Linked DNA regions of Homo sapiens. The protein of the gene in region 1 interacts with the protein of each later gene in a pairwise test. Each region holds a gene or a part of one and is shown on either strand. Other genes may lie near its edges.

Region 1 (7,796 bases):
AAGAAATTTCCAGTTTTATGCGAGAGTTGGCATGTATACAGTGATTATGTGTTCAGATGTGCTAAGAGGACTGAGAAGCAACTTTTTGTTGCATTCCCTTAGGATGACTGGGTTAGGATATCTAAGTAAGGTTCAGATTTTCATAATCAGAACAGCTCTTGCAAAGTGATTTCCATAGTCCTTGAAGAGAACTCATCTCTGTTCATGAGTTCAAGAGCTTATCCAAGACAGAGTACCTGTGTTTGCATGCATATGTGGGTCTCTTTAGTTTCTCCTGTTGGTCTTACTGTCCTTACTCACATTATTTGGGTCTGTATATGCATGCTGATTCCTGGAAGGGAAGTCCCAGTTACTCTCATGGGCTTCTCTTAACCCCAGTAGGATGAAAATCTTATTTCCAAAGCTTCTTTGCTAGAGCAAACACGTGAGCTTGACTGTGGTTGCTTTTCTTTCCACAAGGGTCTCTTTGGAAGCCAAGACATGTTCACACCACTGAGAAATGGCTGTGGGCTCAAGTTCTACAACCAGAGCATGAGAAATCCAGAGGCAAATTTAAACGATACAGATGTGTCTCAAACCTTCCATAATTTAGGCTTTTCCTTCCAGATTATTTTACTTCAAAATCATTTTTTCAATTTAACTGTGAAGACCTAGTTATCATAGATCTATCATTCTTTCCCAGGACCTAGAGTAGGGGTGGGGAGAAGACAGGGGACATATTTTAGCAGATATAACCATAATATAATAATTTGCAGAAGATCAATAATTTGATTATAAATCACCTTTTTAAAATCTAAAATTCTAAAGTTGAATGATATGAACAATAAATTTTTTATTGTCACATGCTATTATGCAGTCTGTGAAGTATGCTCACAATATCTCGTAACTACAAAGGGTAGGTAATATCATAGTTATTCTCACATGAGGAAACTAAAACTCAGAGAAGTAAGTCTTCCACAGCTACACACTATGATGCCTAAAGCACAGGTGTGATGCCTAAAACACACATTTAATGACTACTAAGTTTGTGTACTTTCTATTACATAGTTCAGCTTTTGTCTTTCTAAAGCAGTTTTTCTAACTGAGTTCTTCAGAACAACAATGAAATGTTGATAAGTATATTTTCACATAAGTTTCCTGTACAAACAGGTTTGGAAATATACAATTAATCAAAGCTAAACAGATTCAGTGGTCTTTACCACAGGACCACTCAGACTTATTATTAACATGAAAATGAGCACTGGGAATATCGAAGAGTGGGATTTAGTAAGCATTTTTCCCCAAAGAAGTGTTTCAAAAAACTCTTTGTTTCTGTAAAGATATATTTCCAAAACGCTGATAGGTATTCTTACCACCAAATTTAAACCATCCTCCCTTTCAATTATGCACTTGATCTAGAATGAAGAAATTTCAATAGGCCTTCCTTTTTAATGCTGTCTTGTAAGTAATGATTTGTTATGAAGCTATTACTCTTAAATATTTTGCTTAAAACTATACAAAACAATCTATTACAGTACATTGAACATACTGTGTATATATCATGTATGTGTGTATGTATGTATCTATCTATCTGGATGTATGTGCATCTCTACCTCAGCCCTACCTTGAGTACCATTCTCTGCACTTGGTCAATCTGCATTAGTGCACACTTCTACAAACACTCAGCAAATGAAGGTTCTGATAGGCTAAACCTGATCTGAACATGTTCTGCAACATGTGTTGTGTGTATGGCCTCCCTCTTCTGCCATTTATTTGGTGTTATTTGAGAACCATTTATGTGATAAACAAAAGATATGCAAGTGATATCACCAGATCCTGCATAAGAGTTGAGGCATAGGCGTCTCCTGAAGTGTTTAACAGGTGCTCAGGGCACCTTGGGGGAAAAGGTAATGGAAAAAAGAGGATAAAAATCAGAAGATAATTAAGCACTGTCAGATGTCCTCTGACATTATTTATGAAGAGCACCACAGAATCACTGGAGTGGGAGAGGACTGTTCATCAACTGAACATTAGTCACTAGAGGCTCTGAAAAGTTTAGCAGAAGACATGTCTTAAACAAATGAAAGAGGTTTTCTAAACAGATGCAGGAACACAGGCCTAAGCTAGGGCATTGATTCAGTTAGCACACGCTTTCTAGGACTGCGCTCACCATGCTACCTGGGATATGTGTTATGTTACCTATTATTTAACTATGAGCCAATTAGGAAGATATACTTGGAAAAAATGCAGCAGGACACCTAGAACACTAGCCAAGGAGAAATGGTGAAATGTAACTGAGAAGGTGGTCAGAAAAGATAAGATGTGGGCAGGAAAGAAGATTGGGGTGTGCAGGGGGAGAAGGAATTATTTATATTCCAAGCTCTTTCAGGTGCTATATACACATCACTATATTAGGACTTCAACATTCATATAAGATAACTACATTATCCCTATTTTCACCAGTGAGAAAATAAACTCAAAAGATTAATTAGAACAATAACCCTACTCAATTCTATGAATCATCCAGGAGTTGTCCTATTATACAAAGAAACCTCAGAATTTAGGTGCAAGTTTTGTAGACTTCAAAAAGAGAAAAAGATGTCCTTTTTTATCTACAGATTAGAAATATGCCTGAAATTTCCTAGGAAATTGGGCAGGAAATAGAGGAAGAAGGGGGGAAAACCTGAAGGAAATTGAAAATGCTCTTTGAGGAGTTAAAAACAATAAGGTCACTTTGGATTTGATGTGTGTGGGGGTGGGGGAAATGTGGAGAGGGGCTAGAAACATTGTTTTTGGTTCAGTAGGAAAGAGCAGTTGGAAGGTATCTTTTCTTTATTGTAAAAGCCTGGGAGAAAAGAATGAAAGAGTAGCTCATAGGAGACTCTTCCCACAGACACACATTGAATGATTAGTCGCGAAATGGGTTGGAAAAATAGAGGAGGTGTGGGGAGAGTATCAGATAGAAATCCTGTTTTGGGAAAGTATTAAAAGATAGAAGTATCACAGTGTAATATTTAACCAAAAAAGCGGAGCTCCTGAAACGTTTTTTATTGAAGTTCAGTGATCAACTGTGAGTGCAGGTTGGGGGAGAAGGGAAACGTGTTATTTAGCTACACTGAACAGTAATTCATAGATAATAAAATATATCCAATAAGGAAATAAACTCAAAAATTTCCTTTCACTTCCATATTCTGGACTCAATTATATGCTGGCATTATATAGTAGGGTGATGATGATAAAGTAAAGGCATAATGGAAAGGGGATGCATTTAAAGAAGGAATAAGAGAAAATCTGAAGTCTTAGTGCAGGGATTTATTTCATTCTGAAATAATTCTGTGCATCCATACCACCTTTTCATTTCACTTGACTTAAAATTGCATTTATCTGTCTTCTCCATTAGGCATAAATTCTTGAAGGCTGGGATTGTATCTTACTTAATTTTGTTCTGCAGTGACTACACAGAGCTTGGCACACTTTCTCAATAAATCTAAGTTTTATAAGGTAGGGTAAGCACCGTAAACTGTTCACTATTTGATTCCTTATTTAGAAGTTGTGCAATGAACGGAGATTGCTTCAACTCAGTGACCAAAGTGGTTTATGAGCTATTGATTTCTGATTAAAGTGATGCTAATGATAAGGATAACTATTATTTATTGTACATTTTCAATAATAAGCCATTATATTCTTTACATATATAATCTTCTATTTTCTGTTCAAGAATCCTGTGAATTACTATTAGAAACTGAGGCTGAGAGTTTAAACAATTTATTCAAGGTCACAGAACTAATAAACTATGGCCCTGGGAATTTTTGTCTAAGTATTAATATACCTAGCTGAAGAACTTTATACTTCCTCTCATAATTTTCTCTGAGCCAACTGAAATCATGGTTAGAAGTTTCCCATTCACAAACTAAAAATGAGGAAAGACTAATAGTTTAGTGGTTTTCATCTCACTCAAGAATGAATACCTTTATAATCATTTAAAAGAATAACAATTTTATACATAGGATTTAAGTTTACTTCACAATTTCCTTTCATTTTTCATAAAATTTTTCATAAGAACAAGAAAGCAAAAAACATCAAGCACTTTATATAAAGTTACAGAAACTCTTGAACTTCTGGAATTAACAAAATTGATAGTCTTCCATTAACTCGTAACATCAAATGCCAAGAATTTCAGCAAACAGAACTTGCTAATTGAAAGTGAGCCTTGTGCAGCACTACTTGATACATTAAAAGCAAAATATTATATTAATAAGCATTTCAACTTTATTAATAATGCTTGATGGGTCTCCAACGGGACATTTTACTCAAAATTTAAAATTGGACTTCAAGAAATCAGAAATAAACACGCCAATCACAAATTACTAAAACCAATGCAAAATATAAAACACTAGTCTCCTGTAACACCAGCGTTTACTATTTCAAGAACTCTTGAACTGCAAAAAGATTCTAAAATATAAGATAACAGAAATATTAGGATCTGTTGATTTACATTAGAAAAAATTCACCCAGGTTTCAAAGTACGTTTAACATGTTAATGATTTGCCAAAAAAAACAAAAAACTATTTACATAAAGCTCCTCAAAAGTTCATAGTCTTTCAGAGCCTAAGAAATAATAAACAAAATCCAAAAAAAGGAGGAAAAAGTATACTTAAAAAGTGAGAGATTTCTATTTTCAGAAAAGTATTATATGGGCAGCAATGAATAGGATTCATTCTATGCATCGATAATAATTGCAGATAAATTTAACTGATTTGTTAACACTTTGCCTTTTATAAGCAATGCCTCATAAAAATAAAATCGTTTTTAAGTAAAAGAGATCTACTTTCTACAAAAAGTTCAGTAATTATTGTATTAGGTACATTGAGCTTGAAGACCACTTGGTGAATGAGAGTACTCCAAGTCTTAATTGTAATTTAGAACAAAAGGAAATAGAATGCTCACCTGGAAATAATCCAGTAAGTCCTTGGAATTACCATGCATTAAAAAAAAGAATAAACAATTGATGGTTACACAGCAGGTCGTCTGTGTTAGGACTGCAGTAAATTAAGTAAAGAGGTGGAGAAATCCAGAGAAAGTGTAAGAATTGTGAAAATTACCCAATCTGCATACTTTAAGTTAGCTGATAGGGGTATAGAACAGCTCTTGAACATATTCACAGGCACCTTATGATTAAAGTGTCAAACCTCTTTGAAGATTCCTCAGTAATTTACTATTCCATTTCTGTTTCATTCATTAAATAGTTTCTAAAGCATCCCCAAGACCCTTCCATTAGTAAAAGTTCTCAATGATTTAAGCTGGGAGCAACGCAAACTATTTTGATTCACTTAAGAGTGCATAAGTTACCTTTAGAAACAAACTGTAAATGAGAAATGCAATGATGTGGTCCCCTCACAGGGTGAACATGTTAAAATAATTCCATAGCTCAAGAGAGCATGATCTAAGTGGAGCACATAGCTACCACAGTCTAGATTTATATTCCCTCTTTTACTTATCAATATTCTTATTCTTGTAAATAGGTAAAAATACTTTATCTTTTTACTTATTAAGAGACAAAAAGGATAAACATGTAAATAGATTTTAAAGCACTCTTAGAGGTATTAATATAATGCTTTAATATCTTTACAAAAAATAAATCATAAAATAATTTTTTTGAGATAGGGTCTCTCTCTGTCATTCAAGTATAAAATAATTTTTAATCTAGTTTTTTTCGTTACTAACAAAGATACTTAAAGAAATGTTAATTGTGCACATGGTTTCAGTAGAAATTTAATTTTTGATATAATTAACAAGGTACATGCAACTGATTCTTATTAGAACAAATATTTAATTGACAAATATTGAGTTTCCACTATAAAAGACATTGTACAGATATTGTGGAAATATTTTAAAAGGTCATTAAAATCATTGCTTTTCCAGACAACGAATTCATATTGTAGGGGTGTCTTTAAGATAAAAAAATTTCCTGAAGATACTATTTTAAAAATGGATTGGAGGGATGGATTAGGTGACTTATATGGATCTTGTCCAGCTCATATGTTCTATTAGTCATATGAATTAACCATTGGGATAGTAAAACTATCAATCATTCTTTAATATATCTCTGTACCATTTGATACTTTAGGAAAATTAATGTTTATATTCACTATGCATAATGAAGATGGACACTGTCAGTTTAGATTAATTAAATGTGATCATTTCTGTGGAGAGAGCCTTCCTATTTTCCTAAATAATCACTAATTTTAGGAGCATAGAAATCACTCAAAACAAAGAAAAAGACCTTGAGAACAGTGAAAATATATTGCTGTTATCAATTAGGAAACCATATGTTTGATACTGATGCTGAACTGTTATTCTGTGAAACTCCCTAGGGAGCCTCTCCACAATGTTTGGAATTCATAACTACATGCAACCCAAATAGAAAATCTATAGCTTGCCCAAGACAATATTCCTGATGCTGTAATCCTATCACATGTGACTCACATGTAATGGGGAGGTGATTCACAGTGTAGTAAACCAAAGCGGGGCACTTAGCAACTACAAATCTCCGCATCTCTGCAAAGGCTATCTATCTGGTGTTCAGAATACCCTGGAATGGGTATTCTGCAAGGGTATATGAATGGGTATATCAGCAAGATCAGGTAACATCTAACTAACCCGAGAGCATTTGTTAGAAACAGACTCCATCCAAGACAGAGCTCATCCCAATTCTGTAAAGATTTACCAACAGAGGAGGGGTTAAATTAAATTGTTAATTGGTAAAGGTGTTGAGAAACTCACCACTTTGCTTCTTAAAAGCTTCAACAACTTCCAAGAGTAGTTACCTACTCTTTGAAATGAGAAAGAGATCCCAAGTGGGACTTCCTCTGGCCTTGCATTCCAATCATCAAGCTCCTCCTTTCCTAATGCCTCAGCTTTTTTCATGTAAGAATCCTTAGCATTTCCCCATTTGTGGTAGTTGTGAGTATCTTTCTGAGTGCCTGGGAGATTACATTTTTGGAGAAGAAACAGGAAGGCCCAGACTATATTTAGGAGGCATAGAATGTTATTGTATAGGCACTCAGAGAATTTTTATGGAAGAAAGGGAGAAAATGAGGAAGAAATGGAGAAAGCAAAAGAGGAAAAAAAGGAGAAAAAACAGGAGGAAGGTAGGAAGGCCAGTTAGGCGGGTCACCTTGTCTGCTTTGCAGCCCTCATCCAGCAAGATGAGAGCAGAAACTGCGAAAGAATAAAACAAAAGATCTGCCTGAGGAAAAGCTATGCAAATGCTTTAAAAGCTTTAAAGGATGAAAAAGCTGCACTACTCTCCTCTATAGCACAACTTCAGGTTAAACCAGTCAAGCCTTCTTCGGTCTTTCTGTCCCTTCCCTTTCCCTTCTCCGCAGGTGGCTTTATCTGGAGGATTTCCAGGAAGGCTGGAGACAGGCATCTCTAATTTGGGTTCTGCCTCCTAGGAGCCAGAGGTGAGCTGGCAAAGTCCACTCTGGAAACCCTGCAGCTTCCTCACTCCACGAAGTCCTAATCTCTGCAGCTGCAGTGGTTTTGGAGGAGGACAGATGGGGAGAAAAGTGGGAATGTAACTGCAGTGTCTTTGAAGGCTGGATTCCCTGAAGGATTTTGGGGAACACAGCAGGGAAAGATGGAAATGGGCCCTGGGCAGTTCTCAAACAGGAACTGCAGATTCTGATACGCTAGTGCTCCCGGCAAACGCCAAGGATTCCAAAGAAATTGTCTGAGATGCAGAGGAGGCCAGAAAAGCCAGACTAAACATCCAAAGAGGTGGGGATATTAGAGGTGAGGGGCAATAAAAAAGA
Region 2 (7,992 bases), on another chromosome or scaffold:
CACAGACAGGTAATAAAAATTAAAGGCCGGGTGCAGTGGCTCACACCTGTAATCCCAGCACTTTGGGAGGCCGAGGTGGGAGGGTGGCTTGAGGCCAGGAGTTCGAGATAAGCCTGGGCAACATAGTGAGAGCCTGTCTCTATTATAATATATACAATATTAAAATTAAAAGTAAAAATGAGAGCAATAGCTAATATGTACGAGTGCTTACTATGTGTTGGGTACTGGTCTGAATGCCTTACATGAATTAAGCCATTTAGTCCGCCCAGCAACCCTATGACATCAATACTATTATAATTCCCATTTTAGAGATGGGAACACTGAGATACACACACAAGGTCAAGTCACTTGCTGAGGTCACAGAGCTAGTAAATGGTGGAGCCCTGCTTCGTATTCTGCACTCCTAGCCTCTCTACCAACTAGGCAGACGCTAACTGCTGCCGATGCTGGGATGGGGTGATTTTCCCAGGTGTGGCCTGACCTAGGTTTTGGGGTTTGGCTGGGTGGCCCCAGCTGGGTGCAAGCTCTGGGCTCAGTATGGGCATCAGCCTGAGGCCTGCAATCCTTGGCCTTGGCCAAGGGTGGACGCACTCCCTCCACCCTTCCTTCTGTAGCAGTGCCTACCTGGCCTAGGAGGCACTGAGCGCTCAGAGGCTATGATTAGCAATCGATTGCTGGTGCAGGGGCCAGGTGGGGGGCTCAGGAGCCCACAGCAGCCTGCAGCTCCAGGAGAGTAGACAGGTGCAGGCACCAGGGCCGAGGGCTGGCTGTGAGTGCAGAGACTGAGGCCCTAGGCTGTGGAGTCAGCATGCCATGGTTTAAATCTTGGCTTATACTATCCTAGCTGTGTGGCCCTGGACAAGTCACTCCACTGCCCTCTGCCTCAGTTTTCCCACTTGTAAGATAGGGACTGTGTTCATATATAACCCAAACTAGCTTTATCTGCCTAAAACTTTCAGACTAGTATGCACTCGGAGAGCATCAGTGATAAGGAGAGGGCAGGGTGGGTCAGTGATGCAGCCACCCAGAGTCTCTGGGACCCTGGCTGTCCCCTGCCCACATGGCTCCCCATATTCCTTTCACCTCAACCCAACTTTCCTGGATGCATGTTGAGACTGCCAGGGGCCCCGTCCTCTCAGGAGGGGGACAAGGCTGGACTATACAATTAGATCTGGGGGGCGCTGAGGAAGCCCAGGCTGCAGAAGGAAGGGTGGAGAGAGCGTATCTTGGCTGCTGTGGCCCCAAAGAGCCCTGGCAGAGGGGGCGGTGGAGGGAGCCCCAGGTGTGGGGTCAGAGGACCTGGGCCCCAGCCTCTCAGGGTGACCTTAGCAGGCGTCTCTTCCTCCCCGGCCTCTGTCCCATGCTCAGTGGGTTCTCAGCTCAAAGGCCAGTCCTTCTGGGCTGGGACCCCAAGGTGCCTGATATGGGGTGGCCAAGTGAAGGGGAAGGGACACTGAGGAAACACTCAGATCCCCTCCACCTGGAGCTGGCCCCAGCCAGAGACTGCCTAGAACCTTTGGGGTTTCTGGAGCCTGGTGCTCCTAAAGAACCCTCAGCACTCCTCACTCTTCAAACTTCCTTCCCCTCCCGCTAGGCTGCAGGCCTCCCGTACCAGGTGCTGTGCTGGGTTCCTTGCTGCTGGATGCCCAGCATGCACACGGTGCCTGGCACACGGCAGCTATCATGTTAATATCAGCTTAATGCATGGATAAGTAAAGGAACCCCACACAGCCTGACCCTGTACCTTCCCCTTCCCCAGCCGGGATTCCACCCCGATACCTCCCAGAGACATCCTGAGCCACTTACCTGAATGCCCACAGGAACTCCTGAGCAGAAGCCCTTCGAGTCCAGAGGATGGGGGAAGGTCATTGTGCTCCTTGCTCAATACCCCCAGGACAAGGTCCCCTCTATTCTGGGTAAGCTACTAGGGGTGATGGGTGTGGTGGTGGTCAGTGGGTTTGGCCTCAGCCTGCAGAGCCTGAACCAAGGCCAAAGCCACCCCCACTCCCAGTCACACCCCCCTGATCCCACTGTGGGGTGAACAGACCAAGGTGGGAGAAGGGCTCAGCCCAATCGCTTGTCTAAAATGTTGCCCAACAGCCTGTTGGAAAGCTGGTGGTGATGGGTGGGGGTGGAGGTAGGGGGCTCCAAAGACCAAACTGCCCATCCCCCAATCTCTGTGCAAGACTGTGTGTCCCCTCCTCACAGATAGAAGAGGCTGGGGCCTGCCCTGGGCCCCCAGGCAAGGGCAGGTCCCCTCCACCTCCTTGGGTACCACGTGGGGGAGAGTGGAGGGTGACAGGTCAGACACAGAGAGAAAGGCCCAGGGGTAACTGGGAACATCAGCTGTGCTCTGGCCCTTCTGTCCCCTGTCCAAGGATGGGGGTGGGGAGGAGGATTAGGGGGCAGGGGAACCTTCTTTATAACCTGTGCCCCACCATTAACCCTTTCCTGCCAACAGGGTTCAGGGGCTCTGCAGATGGGGGCACCCGGTAAGACGTGGGAAGGGGCTGTGGGGGTGAGCTGGTAAGACCTGTGTCTTGGGGAGGGGTGGGAAAGGGAGGGTCTGCTAGTTCTCCCGGTGCCCGCAGTTCCTCCGGGAAGCCAGGAAGAACCAGAGCTGGTTCCCAGGCACCCGGCAGGGGGTGTGTGGCTGTAGGGATGAGAGCGCGGCACGGCACGGGACCCTGCTTCGTGTCACCTGCGGGGCTGCAAACTGGGGCGGGGATGCGGTGACCTCTGCACGTGCGCTCTCTGCGCTGCCCCCGCCCCCTACCGTCCCTAGCTCTGTCCCCCTCAGGACGCCGCGTCCCCAGGGGTGCGGCGGGGCCGTGAAGGGCGGGTCGCCAGCCCCATCCCCCAGGTCTCCGAGCGGCGAGGGGACTGCGCGGGTCCCCGGCACCCGATCCCCCCGCCCCCGGCCGGGCCCCCTCACCTCGCGACACGCAGGAGCCCATCACGGGGCCGCGGGGCCGGGCCGCTGCGCCCGGGGTGCGTGGGGCCGCGGGGCGTTCATGTCTCCGCGGGCCCGGGGCTGAGCGCTGCGGAGCCAGAGGACGGGCGGGGCGGGGGGCTCGGGCGCCCTCAGCTCGGCCTCAGCTCCAGCCTGGGTCGTCCCTGCTGCCGCCGCGCCCGGCTCGCCTCGCGCCGCCGCCTCCCGCGCAGTGCCCGCCGCTGCCAGGGGAGGGCGACACCGCGGGGCGCGGCGGGCGGGGCCCGGGGGAGCGCAGCCGGGAGGCTCGGGCACACCTGTGGCCGCAGCGCGCGGGAGGGCCATCTCTGTCCCTTCGGGGCTCCCCCACCTCCTGGGGTTGCCCGGGCTGAAGGTCAGGGAAGGGGACAGAGGGGGCGGGGAGACTCCTGGCATTTGGGGCACAAAGTAAACAACATGAATTTAACCACACCAACGACGACTGGGCACGAAGGCTTGGGAGCGAGGAGGGGTGCGCGCAAGAACAACAGTTCCATTGGGCCTATTTTTAGAGGATGAAAGTGAGGCTCGCAGAAGTTAGAGGCCTTGCCTGAGAGCCCTAAGCTGTGAGTTCAGCGACTTTTGACTGTCAGCGCCTCATTCAGAGCTATTGAAATTAACATATGCAAAATAATATATGCCCAGAGGTGGGGTAGAGAGAGTGCGGGTAGATAGTGCGCTGGTGGCCTGGCGGCGGGATGAAGGGTCTCCAGCGATGGTTGAAGAGGGGGGCAAGGCTGCCTCTCAGGGCTTGTCTAGGGCAGAGTAAACTGAGGCACAGGTTTTTTTCCCCAGCCCTGGACGGCCTCTGTAGTCATTCACACTTACTCGCACGTACCTACACACACACTCTCCCATGTGTACATACCCCTCATTCACACACTGATGGTCATACACACACATATATATGCACACTTGCATTTACATACACGCACACACACTCACATACCTACACATGAATACACAGTCTCCCATGTGTACATACCCACTCACACCCACACAATGACAGTTATACACTCACATTGAAGCACGCTTGCATTTACACACACACACACACACACACATCCCAGCTCCTGAGGTGTGAAGATCCTTTAGCAAAATTTCCCATGCACACAGCACTCAATGTCAGTGTCTGAGACCCTCACTCACACATAGCATCTCGCTCTCTCCTTCATGCCCACCTGTGCATCAGGCAGGGCAGGCACTCTTGTGTCTGTTTTCCAGTTGAGGCAGCCAGGTTCACTGGTGGCAGCAGAGAAATGTTTTGAAGAATGAATAAGGAGGGGCCAGGCGCGGTGGCCCACGCCTGTAATCCCAGCACTTTGGGAGGCCAAGGCAGGCAGATCACTTGAGGTCAGGAGTTCGAGACCAGCCTGGCCAATATGGTGAAACTCCGTCTCTACCAAAAATATAAAAAATTAGCTGGGTGTGGGCTTGGCACAGTAGTTCATGCCTGTAATCACACCACTTTGGGAGGCCGAGGTGGGCGGATCACCTGAGGTCAGGAGTTTGAGACCAGCCTAGCCAACATGGTGAAACCCCGTCTCTACTAAAAATACAAAAATTAGCCAGGCATGGTGGTGGTGGGCGCCTGTAATCCCAGCTACTCAGGAGGCTGAGGCAGGAGAGTTGCTTGAACCCAGGGTACAGTGAGCCAAGACCATGCCACTGCACTCCAGCCTGGGCTACAAGAGAGAAACTCCATCTCAAAATAAATAAATAAATAAAAAGCTAGGTGTGGTGGCACAAGCCTGTAATCCCAGCTACTCGGGAGGCTGAGGCAGGAGAATTGCTTGAACCCGGGAAAGTGGAGGTTGCAGTGAGCCGAAATCGTGCCACTACACTCCAGCCTGGTCGGCAGAGTGAGACTCTGTTTCAAAAAAAAAAAAAAAAAAAAAAAAGAATGAATAAGGTTTGAGGCAGCAGCGTGGGATAGGGCTGGAGGCCTCTCAAGGGGCAGGATCTGGGCCAGGGCGCACTGCCAGAGCAGCTGAGCCAGGGAGTGGGTGCTGACTTCTTTCTCTTTCTCTAAGCTAGGTGCTCTCTGCCCAGTAAAGTCCGGGTGGAGAGCGGTTCTGTGCCTGGCCCTGGTGTCAGCAGACCTGGGTGAATGAGGGCTTAGCTCACACAAGCTGTGCGACCTTGGGTAAGTTGCTTCGCCTCTCTGAGTCTCAGATTTTTCATCTGTTAACTTAGGGTAAAAATCCCACCTCGTGGGATTGCTGTGAGGGCTGATGAAATTAATATATGCAAAATCACTGGCACGTAGTAGGTACTCAACTTAGGACTAAAAATAAATAATAGTGATAGTGAACACAAACAGGTATGATGTGTTATTACTCCACCACAGCTTCCCGACAGCCACAGGGAAGTCTGAGAACTTCCGTTCAACAGATGCATATAAAGCACCTACTGTGTGCCAGTGTGAACAAGACAAATGTGCCAATCCTTGAGTCAGCGCTGTATTCAGTCACAGTTGCTCAGAGCCCCCCTAACTGTACCCTCCAGGTCTGGCCTTGGAGAGGGTGGCTCAGAAAGGACAGCCTGCTATCACCTTGGATGCCCTGGTGCCAGGTGTGTGCCTGCCCTTGTGTGGAGAAGGAAAGGCGGATCTGCCTGTGCCAGGCTCTGGGGTCCCGTCCTGTGTGGCCTGGGCTTGTAAAGGCAGTGGTGTCCTTCTCTTCTTCCTGTCACGGAGTGACTGGATCTGGCTTGGAAGGAGGGCTCTGACTCACTATGACGCAGGATGCTCCGTCATGGCAGCTGATGCTCCCTGCTGGCAGCCTGACAGCTTTGGGGGTAGATGGGACAGGGAGAGGGACACTTGAGAAGACGACAGGGCAGCTCACAGGGGAGAGGATGCCTGGTCACCCCACTGTGCCCCATTTAGCCTAAGCCAGGGACAGGAGGGCAGGGCAAGGCAGTGGCCCCACCTAGGGTCCCTTGCTGACCCACTCAGAGATGTGGCTGGGCTGGAGATCTGGCTCTCCAGCCTCTGGTGTTCATGCTGGTCAGTTCCACATTGACTCAATCCTCTCCTTGTACACATTGGCACTCAGAGAGGGGCAGGGGCTTGCCCAAGGTCACACAGCAAATCAGTGGTAGAGCGGGGACTAGAACCCAGGTCTCCTGCCTCTCAGCCCAGCCCTGGCACCAGCCTGAGACCAGGCCACGCAGGGCCGGTGGCTCTCCTTGCACGCTCACATTCACCTTGGAATTCTGCTGAAGTAGACGATGTCCAGACAGCTCTGAGCTGTGTGGTTGTCCTCCCCGGGGCCACACTGTCCTTTCCCAGTTCACCCCATAGCCCATCTGCCCTGTGACCTTCCACTGCCCGCCCCCAGGGCCCTCTTTGCCATGCCGCTGCTGGGCTAGAGTGGAGAGGAGAGAGTGTCCAGGCTGTGCCCTTCACACCTAGCAGCCCATTCTCTTGCCATGATTTCGGGGATCCAGGCAGAACCCCCACTCCGGTGGCCTTGCTCCGAGCATGCATCAGCCCTGAGTGCCTGGCCCTGATTGGCTGGGCACTGGAGCGTGAAGAGGAGCTGCTGCAGGGTTTGATCAGAGAAAGATTAATCAAGGCCAACCATTACAGCGATGAATCAGACCAGGCCCTGCCCTGGCAGCCCTGGGGGTGGGGCGGGGACGCTGCAGGAGCCACGTGCATAAATAGCGCAGGGTCAGGGTGGACAGTGCTGCATCTCCATGCCAGCCAAGTGTGTGACAGGAGAGTCACTTCTGCCAAGGGCTATGGGGATGGCTTTCAGGCGATCGTGACCCTAGAAGCGGATTTTGAAGGTCGAGTGGGCTGTTGGTGGTAGAAGGCTCTGTGTGCACAAATGTTTGGAGGCAGGGGGCCACAGCAGACTGGCATATATGACATCCAGGGACCAGTGGGAGAGGGTGGGGCTGGACCCCTTCCCCAGGCCCCAAACATCGCAAGAAGGGCAGAGCTTGAAAAGCAGAAAGAGAACAGCATCAGAAGCCAGTCAGATCTGGGTTTGAATCCTGTGCCAAAACCAACATGCAGTAGATCCATGCTCAATAAGTATTTGCTGAATGAATGCGAGAAAGTGAGACTTGCCCAAGGTCCCATATCTAGAACGTGGGACTGGTTCAATCAGCCAGGACTGATTCAACCTTTCATTCATCCAGCAATTGCTCACTGAGCACCTGCTGTGTGACAAGCGCAGTCTGTGCCGAGATTACGACATGAATGAGACGGACAAGGGCCCCGCTCATTGGAGCTTATGGTTCTGGTGGGGGAGGCAGGTGTTAATTCAATAATGACCCAGATACATTTAGAATCACGGCCCTGGAAGCGCTCAGAAAGGAGCCCTTGAGAGTGAAGAAGAGGACTTCATCTGGTCCCAGGCATGAAAGGCACATCCAGAGAAATGACAATGACAGAGCCCACAGCTGATGGATGGGTGGGATTTAGCTAGGTAGAGAGAGGGGAGGGCCTCCAAGGCAGAGGGGCTGGGCAGAGAGGCTAGGCCATGGCCACGGTCCGGAGGTGGGAGGGAGGGACCAGGTCCTGGGAGGAGGATAGAGGTGGCAGCTCCTGCAGGGCCTCACAGTGGAATCTGGTCTTTGTCCAAAGCACATCTCTTGTTTCCTCATCTGTGAACCAAATCCCCCCTCCATTCATTCTCGGTGAGATGGAGGTGCACATGAGTTTCCAGGAGAATTCCCTGCTTTCTCTGGAGGTTTGGCCCTGCCTGGGGGGTTCCAGGGGCCAGGACTTGGGGCCTTTTGGTGGAGGCTGAGAAAGAAGGCCACAGGCTGACCTCAGAATGGGCCCACTTTCAGCTCCAGGCTCAGGACTGGGGGCTGCTGGCTGGAGTTGGGTGTCAGGTCATCTCCCTGCCTCACCCCCAGGCAACCAGCTGGACTAGGGAAAGAGAGAGAAGGGTAAACTCTCAGTCTGATGGGGGAGACAGAGCCCTCAGGGAGCTCCAAGTCTGACAGAAGAGACACGGCAACTGTGCTGGGCATGGGGACACTGAGGTGAGACCAGC
Region 3 (7,796 bases), on another chromosome or scaffold:
CACGAAACAGCCCCATGCTGGAAATAGAGCAAGTATCATTATCCCCATTTTATGGGTGAAGAAACAAACGCAGAGATAGTCAGGGACTTGGCGGCTGATTTGTGACAAAACCAGCATTTGCTCTGCCCCCGGGTTCCGGTGCTCCCGCTGGGCCCCACCCCAGGCCAGCCGCTCTGCCTCTGTGTAGACAGCGCCAAGCAAGGAGGGACTTGGTGGAGTGCTCACCAGCTTAACTACCAATTCGGAAAGGAAACAAAGGCAGGAAAGGAGGTGGGCTGGTGTCTTGGGAGCCCGAGGCCAGGATGGTCTCCCCAGGACAGGGTGAGTACTTGACACTTCTCCAGTTCTTTTCCAGATTCTTCCCAAGTCCTAGAGAGCACTCCCGGTCTCTTGATCTCCTTGGGTAAGTGCAAGAAAAATAAGTAATCATCTACTACTTGACACTAAGTAATCAACAAATTGGCTAGAGGCCTCTCTGGTGGACACAGGGACACAGGTGGTCACATCAGGCCCTAAATGCTGTGTAAGTTGGAGGCCCATCAGTGGCATGGCTTCCAAAGGAATGGCTTGGTCAAGCCTTTACCTATTGCCATCTAGACGAATTTTTTTTTTTTTCAACAGAGTCTTGCTCTGGCACCCAGACTGGAGTGCACTGGCACAATTACAGTTCACCGCAGCCATGACCTCCCGGGCTCAAGAGATCCACCTGCTCCAGCCTCCCAAGCAGCTGGGACCACACGCATAGGCCATTATGCCTGGCTAATTGTTGTATTTTTTTGTAGAGATGGGGTTTCTCCATGTTGCCCAAGGTACTCTTGAACTCCTGCGGTCAAGGGATCTACCCGCTTCAACCTCCCAAAGTGCTGGGATTGCAGGCAAGAGCCACCGTGCCCAGCCTAGGGGAAATTCTATGGGAGAAAACTGAGCTGGCCTAGGTCCTAGCCAAATGACTACCTGAAGGAGGACCGGGGGCTGCAGTTTTGGCAGCAATCCAGTGGTGGGGGGAGGCGGGGGCTCCCAAACCCCGGGACTCTCCCCTGAGCTCCCAGCACAAGCCACTTCCTACAAGCCCAGAACTCCAGGCCAGACTTTGTCTGCACCTGTTTGAGCTCAGAGTACAGTCCCTGCTCTAGAAGCATCCAAAAATATCTGAGAGAGCGGGGAATAGGGAGGGGCTATCTGGAAGAAAACAGGCTAGAGTCTTCAGAGGGCTGAGAGAAAGAGCCACTTGGCTCAGCATTCAAGGTTCTTCCCAACTGGCCCCAACTCATCAGGGTGGCCTAATCTCCCCCGAACACGAGCCCCACACTCTAGCCAGAGCTAGTCTCATCCTGTCCCTGGCAGTGCCGTGCTCTGAGCTTCCTCACCTCCTGGCTTTTGTCACCATCTTCAGGTGTCTCTGCCTGCACAAATCATCTGTCATTCATTAGACCTTGTTGACTGCCTTGAATGAGCCAAGCGTCATGCTACACTGTTCGTGATGAAATACGGGCAAATTAAACAAAGGCACAGCTTCCACCCTCCCCAAGCTGACCGTCCAGCAATTGTCCCCTCCCTGCACGTTGGGCTGAAACCCTGTCCCTCTGCACAGCCAACCTTCCCAACCATCTTCTGAACTTCAACCAGAGTGAGCATAGACTGCTGGTGGGGGGGTGTTAGTTACATTTTTTTTTCAGTGCGTGTCATCTCCCCAAATAGAAGGTCAGCTCCTGAGGGCAGAGACACAACTCATTCCCGCCTGCACAGTGCAGCTGGCCAGGACCTCACAGGGCTGACAAGGGGCTGAGAGATGGGCCTCACAGGGAGGGACCCACAGCTGCCTTACACCTCTCCCTGCTCTCATCAAATGCCCCACTCTCTCTGCTCCCTGCAGTCTCTGAGGCATCTGAGTCTGAGATTGTGCCATACCCTCATGCTTCTATTTGATCCTTTTGTGCCTTCATCCCTAACCCGAGTCCATCCTGCTTTTCCAGCCTAAAGGGGGACTCCCTTTAGGGAGCATCTCTCATTTCTTCAGGATTTGGCACCCAATCTCTCCTCTCCTGCCAGGGCTGGCCATGGCCTGCATTCATTCTGTGTTCTCTCTCTCTTTTTTTTAAATATGGGGTCTCGCTCTGTTGCCCAGGCTAGAGTATAGTGGTACAATCTTGGCTCACTGCAACTTCGACCTCCTAGGCTCAAGCCATCCTTCCACCTCAGCCCCCTGAGTAGCTGAGACCACAGTGTACCCACTACATCCAGCTATTTTTAAAGTTTTTTTGTAGAGACAAGATCTCACTGTGTTGCCCAGGCTGGTCTGGAACTCCTGGGCTCAAGCAATCCTGCCGCCTTAGCCTCCCAAAGTGCCGGGATTACAGGTGTGAGCCACTGTGCCTAGCCTATTAATTAAATTTAATAAATTATTGCTTTAATTCTGATTTAATTTGGTGCTTTCATTCTGATTCTGCCACCTTCCCTGAGATGGGGTGGCTCAGCAATTGCTGCTCTGGGAGTCCCTCTGTGACAGACAATGAGGAAGTCACAGGCAACAGGCATGTCCCCAAGGTAGGGGGGCAGCTGGGACCTTGACTCCGAGTAAAACCACCTTCAGGGCTGCAGAGGGATGAGGGAGGCTGAAAATAGATGGAACAGGACTTCTCTGATATTAGAGAAGGATGACAGCACAGGCTGCCGCCATCGAGGAAATGAATCAGTCTCTAGAAACTCAGTTAAATCCGTCCCATTTGCTAAACTGCACCCACCCCTGTCACGTCCTACTGAGGATACCCAGCTAGGGATGAGCACAGGGGACTGGGACCTCTCGAGCACTGGGCAGATCATGCTTAGCAGCCGTGCTCGCCATGGCTCCAATTCATTCATTCATTATTTCACCCATTCAGGACCCAGAAGAGAAACCCCTGCTATGTAGCTCAGTCCCTCTGCGCTCAGAACCGGTGAACTATTTACCACCTCCGTGTTGAGATTTAGGAACTTTGGGTGAGACCTTGCCTGCCAAATGGGAAATTCCATCTTAGAGATATCTTCCTTGAGCTGAAATCTTCTGAATCCTCTGAAACACAGACAGACTTGAGCAAAGTGCCCATCTGTGCTGCGAGTCACCAGCCTCCACTGCAATGAGCTGCAGCTCCCCCCATGACCAGTGTCTTGGTAGCAGGGACAGGGGTCGGAGCAGGGGCCCAGCCTGAGTAGGGAAGGGAGACCCAAGAGGGAATGAAGGAGCCAAATAGGGCGGAGGCAGACTCTGAAGATCAACTTTTAGCTCTAAGAAGACAGGTGAGGCCAGGGGCGAGGTCCCTGAGAAGACAGGACTCCCAGAGCAAACTCGGGAGAGAACAGAAGCCAGCCCACCACCTTGAGCCAAAGTGAGTCCTCATGCCAAAGTGAGTCCCACCAATGGGACACGAGAGGGCACAGGCCTCACAGCCAGGAACACATCATGAAGGGGACCTGAGGCTGGACTCCCATCCCCAGTCCACAAAGAAGAATGAAAACCAAAGTCAGCTGCGTGCAGTGGCTCACACTTGTAGCCCCATCACTTTGGGAGACCAAGGCAGGAGAATCACTTGAGCCCAGGAGTTTGAGACCAGCCTGAGCAACATAGTGACATAGTGAGACCATGTATCTACAAAAAATAAAATTAGCTGGGTGTGGTGACACATGCCTGTAGTCCCAGCTACTCTGAAGGCTGAAATGGGAAGATCACTTGAACCCAGGAAGTTGAGGCTGCAGTGAGCTATGATTGCACCACTGCACTCCAGTCTGGGAGACTAAGTGAGACCTTATCTCAAAAAAATAAATAAAAATTAAAAAAAGAGAGAGGACTACAGTCATCATCTGAGTAACTCAGGCCACATATCCACCGCGCCAATTTCCACTTAAAAAAGCTAGCCCTGGGCCGGGCACGGTGGCTCACGCCTGTAATCCCAGCACTTGGGAGGCCGAGGTGAGCGGATCTCGAGGTCAGGAGATCGAAACCAGCCTGACCAACATGGAGAAACTCCGCCTCTACTAAAAATGCAAAATTAGCCGGGCATAGTGTAGTCCTGGCTACTCGGGAGGCTGAGGTGGGAGGATTGCTTGAGCCCAGGAGGTGGAGACTGCAGTGAGCCTTGATCAACCACTGCACTCCAGCCTGCGCAACAGAGTGAGTCCCTGTCTAAAAAAATAAATAAAAAGAAAACGTAAAGAAAAATATTTTCTCTACCTCAGTAAACCCATCTGCTTTTAAGTTACTGTTGCTGGCCTTTATTTATCCCAAACTTAATTTTTAAAGGTTTCTATGTCTAAAGATGTTGCCTCCTCATCCTCACTAAATACCCTCAAACCCTCCTCATTGGTCAGTGACCTCCTGGTTGTCAGAAGGAACAGCTCCTCTCCCTCAGCATCTCTGTGATATTTAATCCTGCTGGCCACTCGCCCTTCTTCTAGAAGACCTGGGCTTGCAGGTCACTGTCTCTTCTTGGGTCCCTTCCTATCTTTCTGAAATTCATTTATCTTCTTCCTCTTCCTACTCCTCAAACTTAGCGTTGATCAAGGACTGGTCCTTGAATCTTTGTCTCTCCCTGGTACAGCTCCATGGGTGACCTCAGAGCCTCCCTCTCATCTTTACGTAAATGAATCTCACTCCTAAATGCCCTGACCTGACTTCCCTCCTAAGCTCCAGTCCTGCCTAACCCCTGCCACCTCCTTCCAGATGCCCCACGAGTAACCAATCTTCATAATGACCCAAACTGAACTTTTTTTTTTTGAGACAGAGTCTTGCTCTGGTGCCCAGACTGGAGTGCAGTGGCATGATCTCAGCTCACTGCAACCTCTGCCTCCCGGGTACAAGCAATTCTCCTGCCTCAGCCTCCCGAGTAGCTGGGATTACAGGCGCATGCCACTACGCCCGGCTAATTTTTTGTATTTTTAGTAGAGATGGGGTTTCACCCTATTAGTCAGGCTGGTCTCGAACTCCTGACCTCGTGATCTGCCCTCAGCCTCCCAAAGTGCTGGAATTACAGGTGTAAGCCACTGCACCCAGCCGTGAACTTTTTTTTTTTTTTGAGACAAGGTCTCACTCAGTTGCCGAGGTTGGGGTACAATAGTGCCATCACAGCTCACTGCAGCCTCAGCCTACCAAGCTCAAGCGATCCTCCTGCCTCAACCTCCCAAGTAGCTGGGACTACAGGTACCCGCCATCATGCCCAGTTCATTTTTTCTATTTTTTGTTTTATTTTCTATGTTGTCCAGGCTGGTCTCAAACTCCTAGGCTCAGGCCATCCTCCTGCCTCTGCCTCCGCCTCCCAAAGTGCTGGGATTACAGGTGTGAGCCACTTCATCCAAGCCCAAACTGGACTCAAAATCTGTTCCTCTCTCTTATGTTCCCAGTCTATTTTTCTGGCAAGATCATTCTCCCAGTGACCTCAATGGAACCTGTAAGGGCCCCCTCCCCTGGCCTGGCTCCCAAGCTGGGAAGGCCAGGGATTCTACACCAGCTGTCAGCTGGGTCCACCCCTTCTCTCCACTCCCAACCCCTCGCCCAGGTCCACACTCCCTCACCTACCTCTCTGGCATGGCTGACTAATCAGTCTCCCCCTCCCTACTCTTCCTACAAACAACTGCCAGACGGATCTTCCCTGAGCCCTTGGTAGTGACCCGCTGCCCACAGAGCAAAGCCCTGCTTAGCCTAACAAGGCCCTTCACACTTCAGCCCCACCCCTGCCTTCCGAACACGTCCCGCCACCCCACTTCCATCTGCCCGCCTTCATGCAAGACAGAACAATGCTCCCCTTCCCTGGGTCTCACCAGAGCCCCGTTGCTCTGGCACCGTGAGTTTGCTCATCTTGTTCCCTCAACTCAGAATTCCCTTCCTGCCATCTTTCTGTTCTGAATCCTGCTTTCTTCAAGGCCCAGCTCAAATATTCCCTCATCCGTAAAACCTTTTCTGATCCGATCCACTCAGCTCAGGATGGTCTCCTCCCTGCCTTCAGCCCCACCTTGCTTTTCCTGTGCCTCCCCAGTGACACTGATGTGTGTCCCATTTGACTAGATTCAGCTACGTGCAAGGGAGAAGACGCCTCCTCTCCCCTACTGGACTATAAGCACTGAGGACAAAATGCCTGTCTCAATTCCCCTAGTACCATACTTCAAAAACAGCAGGGATGCAGCAAACGAGGGATGGGTTCACGAATGATGGAACACGTTGAGGTGTTTGAATGACAGGGTTGCACATACGAGCGATGTTTACAGGTAAGGACTTATGCTGCGATGAGGCCTGGATTTGGGTTTGGAGCAGGGCATGTGCCCAGGAGAGAGAGCTAAGTAAGCCCAGGCGCTCCATCCCACAGCCATGGCCCTCCCTGCTCCCCACTCCCCCAGCCACCTGCCTCATTCCAGCCAGGATGCACAGGGCCTAGCTCTGTCCTTAGCCTGCAGGCCAGGTCAGAGAACGGAAACAGCTGTCCCCCTCCTGAGTCCATAGGCTGACTCTCCCCAGCCCACTACACCCAAGCAGGCATCAAACGGCCAGCTAGATGCTACCGGCCTCATCTGGACCTCCCTCTGGGGGATAAGCGGGTAAAAGCACTGGCCAAGGAGTGGAAAGGACTGAATTCCAGCTCTGGCCTGCCATGAACTCACTGTTTGACCTTCACTGTAATACCTGGATGTAGGAAAAAACCAGCAGTTCCTAAACAGCAGTTCCACAGGCCACCATGCCCGGTGCCACTTTTTTTTTTTTTTTCCTTGAGACAAGGTCTCGCTCTGTCACCCAGGCTGGAGTCAGTGATGCAATCACAACTCACTGCAGCCTGACCACCCAGGTTCATGTGATCCTCCCCCCTCGGCCTCTCAAGTAGCTGGGACCACAGGCATGCACCCCTACACCGAGCTATTTTTTTTTTTTTTTAGAGACAGGGTCTCACTATGTTGTCCAGACTGGTCTCAAATTCTTAGCTTCAAGCGATCCTCCCACCTTGGGTTCCCAAAGCGCTGGGATTACAGGTGTGAGCCACTGTGTCCGACCACCGTGTTACCTTCTTGAGGGATGTGTTCATTAGCAAGACCCAGTCTAGTGCATTCCAGGCTCACTGTGGGACCAGATGTCCCCTACAGGCTTGCCCGGCTGCACCAAATGAGGAGTCAGGGAACCAGCTGTGGGGAAAAGGCTTCTGGGGTCTGTTCTCTCCCCAAGACCCCTGAGCTTGCTACATTTTCTCAGCAGCCCTGCCACAGCTAGGCTGCCCTGATGAGGAAACTGGAGTGCTGGCCTCTTTCCAGAAATAACCAGCCAGGGGTGGGAGAGAAAGGGGCGGGGAAACAGCTTCCTGACCGTCACTGCACCCTTGTCTCACATGGCGGGCACTGAGCTGTGGGCACTCACAGAGGGGCAGCCCCAGCATGCACCAGCCCCTTGCCATTGGGGTGGCCGGGTGGGGCCAGGGCAGATGGGCAAGTCTGAAGCTAGGGCTGGAGGTGGAGGAAGGATGAGATGGACAGGAATCCCCAGATCCCCAATCTCCGTATCAAGCAACAAGAGGGACAACAGGAAGCAAAGAGGTCCCAAATTCTGCCTTTAGCAGTAAACACCAATGGCTTAAACCCGAAGAAATGAAATGCTTTCTCAGCAGACTTCGCTCTCCAGGGAAACCAAAAGCATAGCTCTTCGCCCTGCAAACTAGGGAAACTCCCCCAGGACGGTCTTATCCACTGCACCCTTTCTCCTCCTTTCACACTCACCGTACAGGGAGAGAGGGGCTTGGGAGTGCAGGCAGGGTCTGTCACAGAGAGACGGGCTGAGGAAAGGAGAGGACCCT

Evidence for each region. Proteins that work in one complex are often made in the same cells at the same time.
Region 2: the proteins of VSNL1 (region 1) and FAM131C interact in binary tests that used the Homo sapiens proteins (3 or more experiments, as listed by UniProt).
Region 3: the proteins of VSNL1 (region 1) and SRL interact in binary tests that used the Homo sapiens proteins (3 or more experiments, as listed by UniProt).

Annotation. Positions count from the first base shown.
Region 1 is NC_000002.12:17,543,154-17,550,949, reverse strand, and holds part of VSNL1 (visinin-like protein 1), read right to left. Parts: intron 1-7,796.
Region 2 is NC_000001.11:16,070,486-16,078,477, forward strand, and holds the start of FAM131C (protein FAM131C), read right to left. Parts: upstream 3,167-7,992; 5' UTR 2,958-3,166; coding exon 2,936-2,957; intron 1-2,935.
Region 3 is NC_000016.10:4,231,915-4,239,710, forward strand, and holds part of SRL (sarcalumenin isoform 1 precursor), read right to left. Parts: exon of another isoform or gene 7,720-7,796; intron 1-7,719.